2 linked regions of the Homo sapiens genome follow. The protein of the gene in region 1 purifies or fractionates together with the protein of each later gene. This does not show direct contact. Each region holds a gene or a part of one and is shown in the gene's direction. Other genes may lie near its edges.

The links.
Region 2: the proteins of PPP2CB (region 1) and CTTNBP2NL purify together in Homo sapiens (affinity purification with mass spectrometry; 7 studies listed by BioGRID and IntAct, with this or other methods). This does not show direct contact.

The regions. Positions count from the first base shown.
Region 1 is NC_000008.11:30,802,047-30,806,993, reverse strand, and holds part of PPP2CB (serine/threonine-protein phosphatase 2A catalytic subunit beta isoform), read left to right. Parts: intron 1-4,947.
Region 2 is NC_000001.11:112,447,151-112,452,097, forward strand, and holds part of CTTNBP2NL (CTTNBP2 N-terminal-like protein), read left to right. Parts: intron 1-1,791; coding exon 1,792-2,022; intron 2,023-4,947. UniProt on the Homo sapiens protein: Regulates lamellipodial actin dynamics in a CTTN-dependent manner. Associates with core striatin-interacting phosphatase and kinase (STRIPAK) complex to form CTTNBP2NL-STRIPAK complexes.

The DNA.
Region 1 (4,947 bases):
CTAATGGCGGGAAAGTGGACTTTGTTACATTTCTCTACTTTATATATGACGTGTCAAATATATATGACTAGGTAAATATATTTAATACTTAATACTGCCCTTTAACAATAATATACCCTTGCCATAAGATATTTACCTAAGTAGATAAAGTGAAGATATTTGCAATGTAAAATTTCTTTTCATTGCCTGCTTTTATTGCCGTGTGTGCCTTTTATTCTTATTTGAAGATCTTGCAGAAATTTTTTCTTCACAGTCTTTTCTCTTCAGTACGAATGTTATAAAAGACTTGGTGAATGAAGCCCTTCCTTGGTAAAAGGAAATGAAAATGCCAGAAATTGAAGATGGAATTAATGCTTAATTAATTTTCCTAGATTGTTTTCTGAATGTAGTTTTTTCTAAGAAGAATGATATTAAAGTTACAGAAGTAATCTGTATAAGAAATCTGAGTCTGTGTTAAATAGAAATTTTTTATTGTTTTGAACTGATTTCCTTCAAGTAAATGTAATGAAATGTAAACCTAATCCAGATTGTTTAAAGAAACTTGTATGAAGACATCTTTTCTTCCTTAATGACCAAATGTGATCTAATAGTTCCTGTACGTTACTTTTCAACTCTAAATTTCATTAATAATCATATTAACGGCCGGGCATGGTGGTTCGCGCCTGTAATCCCAGCACTTTGGGAGGCCAAGGCAGGCGGATCATGAGGTCAGGAGATCCAGACCATCCTGGCTAACATGGTGAAACCCCGTCTCCACTAAAAATACAAAAAAAAAAAAATCAGCCAGGCGTGGTGGCAGGCGCCTGTAGGCCCAGCTACTCGGGAGGCTGAGGCAAGAGGATGGCGTGAACCCAGGAGGCAGAGCTTGCAGTGAGCCGAGATCGCGCCACTGCATTCCAGCCTGGGTGACAGAGGGAGACTCCATCTCAAAAAAAAAAAAAAAAAAATCATATTAACCCTGGGAAGGAGTTCTGTGTATTACAGATTCCGTTTCCTTTCCAGAGAATGGGAGAGCTCAAGCACTCAAGCTTAGAACTGGTTTGCTGTTGTGTCCTTTGTAATTTAGAAATATTTATCATCATTCCTTGTAAACTGTTTTTTGACTGAGATACTTTTGTGATCAAATGAATTAAAAGACAATCCTGAGGTGCAACCTGAGATTCCTGACTTGCGTTATAATAGCATCATGTTACACCAAAAATGTGGAAGACTCCATTGGAGATCTATTAAGTGAATATTTTATACAAAGACAATCGTTTTTATGTTGAGACTGGGATACAGTGGTGAATTTAAGTGTTCTCACCTATTCAATCTTAGAAAAAAGCTTATTTGAATTAACTTTTTAGCATAGTTGGATTTTTTTTAATATGCAGGATACGGTGTGTAGGCTGTAGTTTAATTTTGCTCAAAATCTCTTTTTTTTTGTTTTTTTGTGATGGAGTCTCTCTCTCTGTCATCCAGGCTGGAGTGCAGTGGTGCCATCTCGGTTCACTGCAAGCTCCGCCTACCGGGTTCATGCCATTCACCTGCCCCAGCCTCCCGAGTAGCTGGGACTACAGGTGCCTGCCACCACTCCCGGCTAATTTTTTGTGTTTTTAATAGAGATGGAGTTTCACCATGTGAGCCAGGATGGTCTCGGATCTCCTGACCTTGTGACCTGCCTGCCTCAGCCTCCCAAAGTGCTGGGATTGCAGGCGTGAGCCACTGCGCCCAGCTCAAAATCCCATCTTATAGAGAGGGAAATAATTTTCATCTTCGTTTAAAAGAGTTCCGCATGATATTTATGTCCTGGATGATGAGAGCTCAGAATTGGTTCAGTGTATTCTCGACTTGGCTTGAGTAGCAAAAGAGGCGCTTGTTCCTGTGGGCAGTGAAGAAGAAAGGAGAGGATTGGTTGACAGAATGCTGCCACTGTGTAGTTATCCCGTACATTCAACAGATTTTAGTTGAACCACTATGTACCAGACTGTTCAAAGTGCTAGAGATTCAGCTGTGAAGAGGGGACACGATTAATGAACACCAGGCATTGATTCTTGCTGGCAAGAAAAAGCAGAAGATGGGGACAGTGATGGGCTTGAATTCAAGAGACTCTTTTTTTTTTAATAGGGTGGTCATAGAAAACCTTCCAAATTCTTTATAATGTGGTTTACTTTTGTAATTAAAAAGGATTTTGCGAGAGTTAGAAGGCACAGTCCCTAACACTGTTCTCACCTCTGACACCATCTTCAAAAGTTTAGTCATGATGTACCTTCAGAACAGCAGACAAAAAATAAAGTTCAGTGAACTATAAATTACAGGGAACACTGCCCAGGACTGCCTCAGTTTTGGCACCAATATACTAGTTCAGTGGGTTCCGAAAACCACTCTTAGGTTCAGTGATTCACAGGAATGACTCACAGAACTCACTTTAAGCTGTTACACTGATGATTATGGTTTATTACAGGGAATGAATACAATTTAAAGTAAGCCAAGGGAAAAGACTCATAAGGGCAGAGTACAAGAGGGGCTGACATCTGTAGTGTCCAGTCCTCCAGAGACCAAACTGATAGTGGGATCATCCAAAGTCCGCATCGTGAGTCACATTGTTAATGGTCCGCAGGTCAGAGCCCCCAGGCAGAGATCTCTTTACCAAGCAGGAAATTCCAGGGGCAAAGGCCAGACCTCTCCTCGGGTGAGGTTAATTCTTCACTATACAGATTTTTATTCCATAGCAAATTCTGAGGGACGAGAACCTTAATAATAATAAATGGCAATACCAAAATACATGAAGAAAACAAGGCTAGATTTATCAGAATTGTGGAGTGTGTGCAATGTGAGGGATTTTTCCAGTTGAGTTGGCATATTCTTTTTTTGTTTTAAGTTTGTATTTTGTCAACTGGGCACAGTGGCTTATGCCTGTAATCTCAGCACTTTAGGAGGCCGAGGCGGGCGGATCACGAGGTCAGGGGTTTGAGACCAGTCTGGCCAACGTGGTGAAACCCCATCTCTACTAAAAATACAGAAATTAGCTGGGTGTGGTGGCACGCGCCTGTAATCCCAGCTACTTGGGAGGCTAAGGCAGGAGAATCACTTGAATCCAGGAGGCGGAGGTTGCAGTGAGCTGAGATGGAGATCGCGCCACTGCACTCCAGCCTGGACGACAGAGCAGGACTCCGTCTCAAAAAAAAAAAAAAATTGTATTTTGTCTTTTCTTGGTTGTATAAATTCTCCAAAAGTTAGCCATTTAAAAATGTTTAAGGTCTTATTTTCTACTTTGTGATATGTGTGTATAATTTTTACTGTGCAAGTTTTAGCATTTTTGTATAGTCTGATTGTCCATCTTTTCCATAAACTTTAAGCGCACATGAGAATCACTTGGGAAAGAAATAGGAAATTCATGTTCCTTGACTCCATTCCAGAGACTGATTGACATGTCTTGGGCAGGTCCAGGAAGCTGCTTTTTTTTTTTTTAAAGGCAGGATCTTACTGTCGCCTAGGCTGGAGTACAGTAACATGATCATAGTTCACTGCAGCCTTGTACTCCTGGACTCAAGCCATCTTCACGCCTCAGTCTCCTGAGTAGCTGAGACTACAGGAATACACAACCACACCTGGCTTTTTTTACTCATTTTTTTGTAGAGACAGGGTCTCCTCATGTTGTCCAAGGTGATCTTGAACTCCTGGACTCAAGTGATCCTTCTGCCTCGGCCTCCAAAAGTGCTGGGATTACAGGTGTGAGCCACTGCCCCCGGCCTCCTTTGTGCTTTCAGTGTCATGAAATACCTGTATTTGTCAAGAAGATTAAGACCATGTCTTAAAAAAAAACAAAAGCTAGTGAGATACAAGAGATAATCTTAAATATACCTATAAAGTCCTAGGAACTGTTCGTCTGATTTATTTAGGAGCCGAAGTAAAAGTGATCTTTCCTGACAAATACAGAAAGAGATTTTTGCTAGCATCACTTCTTCCAAAACAATTTTCCTCATTTATGCAATAAGTTTGGATTTTCACTTCTTTATGTCACTAAGTTTCTGCGTGTTGCTAAGTTCCTGGCTGCATATTTGGAGTCTCTCCAACAGCAGCATTGTCAGCATTCCCACAGTCGGTTCTTCCGTGTACTTTTGATTTGAATTTCATTTCCAGGGTTATGTCTTGTGTGTTTGGCTTCTCTCTTTTAGCATAATATATCCAAGATTCCTCCATATTGTAGCATGTATCTGGACTTCGTTCCTTTTTATGGCTGAATAAAATTCCATTGTGTGGATATTTTATAATTACTGCCATCTGGAATTTGTTTTGAAGTTTAAGAAGCCAGGTTTTTTCCGTTTGAAAAAGTAATACAGAATTTGTTTTTTAAAATTTCGAGCATTGGCCAGTCACGGTGGCTCAGACCTGCAATCTCAGCACTTTAGGAGGCTGAGTGGGAGGACTGCTTGAGCCCAGGAGTTTGAGGCTGCAGTGAGCTACGTTCACACCACTGCACTCCAGCCTGGGCAACAGAGCGAGACCCTGTCTCAAAGAAAATTTGTGCAAGCACCTCAGAAAGGTAGCAAGGAAAGCAAATGCACTCTACCCACCATTCCTGTCCCCTGCCCTCCTACCTCCCAGACAACCATTATGTTTCTGTATATAATCTCCTCAGCCATGTTCTTCATATGCAAAAAATATGTGGTGTGCAGAATGTTTGTGGTGTATTGGGAGCTGTTTTGTGGAATAAACTTGGCTTCTGGTAAAATTATTGTTTAATTTGTGATCTCAGGAAAAGAAACTGAAGGGTATAAAGGCCTTAAGATTACACAATTAGATTAAAACTGAAGAGAACCCATGTTTTCTGGAAGACTTCATTGCATATAATCTCATTCTAATTAATTACAAGCAAGGAGAAGAAAGTATGGGCTACATTGTCCATAACTCTTGGGAATCCTACCAGGCTATAAGCAGAAAAGGCATTTGTAGAAGAATACATGG
Region 2 (4,947 bases), on another chromosome or scaffold:
GTAGTCCCAGCTACTTGGGAGGCTGAGGCAGGAGAATGGCGTGAACCCAAGAGGTGGAGCTTGCAGTGAGCCAAGATTGTGCCACTGCTCTCCAGCCTGGGCGACAGAGCGAGACTCCATCTAAAAAAAAAAAAAAAAAAAAAAAAAGTAGAGTTTCATCTTAGACTCTGTGTTTTATACCTCCCCCACTTTTAATTCACACACACACACACAACACACCATAAGGCTAGAAAGATAGTTATTAGTAACTTAAAGAAATGGATTTCTCTCTTCATATTTCCAGTATACAAATAACATCCAAATACTCCAGTAATGTCATAAAGTAAGATGGCTGCAGTCAAGCCAGAAGTAAAACCCAGAATTTCTAACTGCTTTGAACATTTGCCAGCTGATAAGAACGTAAAATTTTACCATAAGGCTAAGTGATTCCTGGGGCCTAAATTGGACAGTCAATGAAGAAGAAGTCTTCAGATTTTCAGCACTGAAATACTTCTGTGTTAAAAAAAAAACCCATGTTTGCTTTATTTTCTTAAAGTTTCCTTTAAATTAAAGCATAGCCAATGAATTGCAAATTTCCCTTTTTTTTAAACAGGCTCCTATTTGTGGATGGCAGTGCTAAGAAAACATGACTACTGATTAGTTTTTTAAAATGGATAAATAATAGTAGTTTTCATAACCAGATTTAATTTGAAAGCTTAAATTATATAGTACTTTGCTGTGACTTTTTAGTTTCTTCAACCCTGTGTTAACACTTCATTTTTCATTGTAAAATATCTCAAGAAACTTTTAAATATCTGTGTAATAAGTAAAAAGTAATGTACATGTAATGTATGATGCTCATGTGGAGTTCTTCAAGCTCTTCCTACAGAGATAAGGAAAGAGGGAAGCCTAGGAATATCTTTCCACCCACTTCCTGATCCTTATACTCCCAACTGGGTACCCAGGGCTAACGTCCTTGACCAGACTCCAGGCACCAGCTTGCATCCCTTTCTTACATGCTCATCCCCAAGGCTCATCAAGCCTTGAAAGAGACAGAAAAGAGAATGGAAAGTAACAACCAGAGACAAGAAGAGGGGGTGGAATTTGGCAGCAGGTGGAAGAGGTTTTGTCTGCATGTCTGGTTATGAGGTGCCTCCATCCTCCTTGACCCATCAACAACTGAGTAATGGTTCATATGTACAGGTCACAAGTAGTCCTAGATTGTAATGTGATCCTGCTTATATTTTGCACACTTTATATATCTGCTGGCATTTTGTTAGGTCTCTAAATATATAAACTCATAAAATTATCATACTTAACATGTTTTAGAAATGCTAGTACCATAACACGGAAAAAAATAAGATGTACCTGCTGGTAATATAAGCATTCATAAGCAGATATAAGCAGAGTCAGTAAGCACAGAGGTTAAGGACACAGACTTCGGGGCCAGGTTGCCTGGGTTTAAATCCCAATTCAGACAGCTTGCTAGATGAGTAACCAGGAATAGTTTTCTCATCAGCAAAATCGAGATGATAGCACTACCTTACAGGGTTGTAAATTTTAAACAAGTTAATCTGACTATAAATATTTAAAACAATGTCTAATACATAGTGCTTTATAAGTATTTGTTCTTGTTAATATACCATGCCACCTTTCTAATGCTGTTTCTTTAGATGGCTCAATCTGACTTGTAATTAGTAGGTTACATTTATACTAATACCACAACCTTTAATGTATAACCACTGGATAGCAAATCCCCCTTCCTCAGTAGTTTTAAAAAGCAAGATGCTTATTTTTTTTCCTCTTTCCCAGGCCCAACACAGAGATACTTTCATTGAAGAACGCTATGGAAAATATAACATCAGTGATCCTTTAATGGCTCTACAGAGAGATTTTGAAACACTGAAGGAGAAAAATGATGGCGAAAAGCAGCCAGTCTGCACAAATCCACTCTCTATTCTTAAGGTTGTGATGAAGCAGTGCAAGAACATGCAGGAGCGCATGCTGTCCCAGCTGGCTGCTGCTGAGAGCAGGCACCGAAAGGTAGGTTCACCTCAGTTGATGTGTAAATCTTTGTGAAGTCTTTATAAATTATGCCTGATACTTTCTTGTCAGCTGCCAGTTTTTCACAGTAATTCAATTGGGACATCTCACGGGTATCAAAAAGCCCCTTAGTTTATGTAAGAGCCAGGAGATAAAAAAGAAAACACAGCTTATTGCAAATGTTAAGTTTAGAGAACGTGCCAGACACGTTATTTAAGACAGCATTTCTTCTTGATATGTCACTCCAAAACACTTTGTATGTTTTTTCAGTTCTTGATCATTCAAACTTTGGGGTTTGGCCAAGCTTGTAGCTGACGGGAGTGTTCTCTATTTGCTTACTTAAGAGATAAATAAAAAGATTAACAGGTATTTGAGGCATGCTATATCCAAGGGAGAGAAAGAATTTACCTGAGGATAAACACAGAAGCCAATAGATTATTTTCATTTATTCCTATTATTCCTAGTTTTGAGTTTCATTGCATTTTGTTGCTCATGAAACCATAAACAGTCCCTTGGTTTATTTACCTTAAAGGTGTTCTACTCTATTAGTGAGGGGTGTGTGTGTGTGTGTGTGTGTGTGTTTTCCATATTTAACAAGCCCTAAAATAGGAAGGCAAACCTTATGGTTATTTACAGTATTTACTTTAAAGCTGTTCTACCCTATTAGTAAAGAGTGTGTGTGTGTGTTTCCATTTCTAACAAGCCCTAAGAAGGCAAACCTGTGCTTTCCTCTGCTTCATCTTACTGGAATTCTAGTGCTTGTGAATTTATTCACCAACTTGTCATCTTGTCATTTACTCCTCAAATTTGGCCTGTAAAAGATGCTTGGCTACAATCTTCATTTTTAAAACACTGTCAGTTTAGATTTATGCCAACAAGGCAGTTATCAGTGCATTTGGTAGGAAACATTTTCATCTGAAAAATAGGGTTAGCAGCTGCAAAATTTGGTGGACCTTACTTTTATGGTTATCAGCATTAGAGCCATCTTCTTAAATTGCATCTGATACATTTTCTAGGCTCTGGATCTTGCCCGTGATCTTTTCTTTCCCTTCACAGAAGCCAAATGAAAGGCCAGAGTGGAACTTCTTAACCATGGATAGGCCTCAGATGTTCCACAGTCCCCCAGAAAATAGACAGAATGTTCAGAGTTTATGCATTTTTGTAGGAAATGTATTTTTTCCATAGCTTTAATCAGATTCTCCAAGTTACCCAAGACCCAAAAATGTTTAACCTCTGGTTAGAATGAAGTAATCTGAAAACATTTACACTCCAATTTAAAAGGTATCAGTGGGTGGGAGTTAGTTGCCTAAATTGGGTGGAGGGGGAGCTTTTACATAATTCTCTAAAAATCTTCACAACATTCTTGTTTAATAGGCAGGCTTTATTTCCACTTCATCCATGAGGTGACTGAGTTGTGTTGAAGCTAGTTGGGCTAGCTTTCATGCCCATGGAAGGTGTACTAGGGACAGTTTGTGTTTCTAGGTGATTGGAGAGAGGAAGAAGTTAAAAATAATTCAAAATTTCTTAATACTATATTGCAGTGCTAAATGTTTTAAGTGAATATTAAATTTTTGAAACAAAGTACCTATCTATTCTTTTTTTTTTTTTTTTTGAGGTGAAGTCTCACTCTGTCACCCAGGCTGGAGTGCAGTGGTACAATCTTGGCTCACTGCAACCACCACCTCCCAGGTTCAAGTTTAAGTGGTTTATCAAAGTAGAAGACTGACTTTGTTAGAAATCAAACAGTACCTAGAGGCTTATAATTAGGGTGCTCATAGTCTCAGCTTATGCCTGTCACCTTGGCTTAGTTATTAACCATATTCCCTTTGACTGTCAGAAATGTTCTGGTTTGAATAATAAATTACATGGTCATTGTGCTTACAATGAAAAACAGTTTTCTATTCCACCTCTTCTCATTCCCCATCCTCCCCAGTATTCACAGGCAACCAGTTTTTTCTTTTAGCCATTCACTTTGGTAGCTAACCTCCATATTTCTAAATACTGCACTGTTCTCTCTTGCTTTATCAATTTTAGACATTTATATTACTTTCTTTTATATAGGTGCAGATTTAGTTATCTTACACCCCGCCTCCCTTTCCTCTCCTTAACCCTTACCCAGAACAAATTTAATCCTCTTTTCCCACCACCATTCTCTGTCACATCTACTATTCCCAAATCCTGAGCCTGTCACACTATTTCTTGAATGTGACAGGCTCAGGATTTGGGAATAGTAGATGTGACAGAGGCCAGATGCTGATGGTCTGTGTGCAGGAATCAGGGTGAAGGGACAAATAATTCTGAAAATACAGGCTTTGAAGGCCAGACACAGTGACTCATGCCTGTAATCCCAGCACTTTGGGAGGCCAAGACAGGCAGATCACTTGAGGTCAGGAGTTCGAGGCCAGGCCAGCCAACATGGTGAAACCCCATCTCTGCTAAAAATACAAAAATTAGCCAGGCATGGTGGCGTTCCTGTAATCCCAGCTACTCGGGAGGCTGAGGCAGAAGAATAGCTTGAGCCCAGGAGGTGGAGGTTGCAGTGAGCTGAGATCACACCACTGTAATCCAGCTTGGGTGACAGAGCAAGACTGTCTCAAAAAAAAAAAAAAAAACACAAAACAAACAAACAAAAAAACAGGCTTTGAGCCAGTTCTCCTGTTTTCTATTCTACATTTCACCTCTCCTCTGCAGTACCTGCCACCTCCAGGTTCCATCTCTTTGGGGCTCTGCAAGGCAAAACAGCTTCCCTCCTTCAAAGTAAAGTAGTTACCACAACTCCAGCCTCTTTTCTTCTTCAAAATATTATTAAAATTTTTTCTCTGCTAGAGGCTCTCTCCTTTGTGGGGTTTTAGTCTTTTTATTCCATTTCTGTAATTTTTGAGGACTCCCAAAAGGGAGAAGATAAGACTTACCACTTTTGGCCAA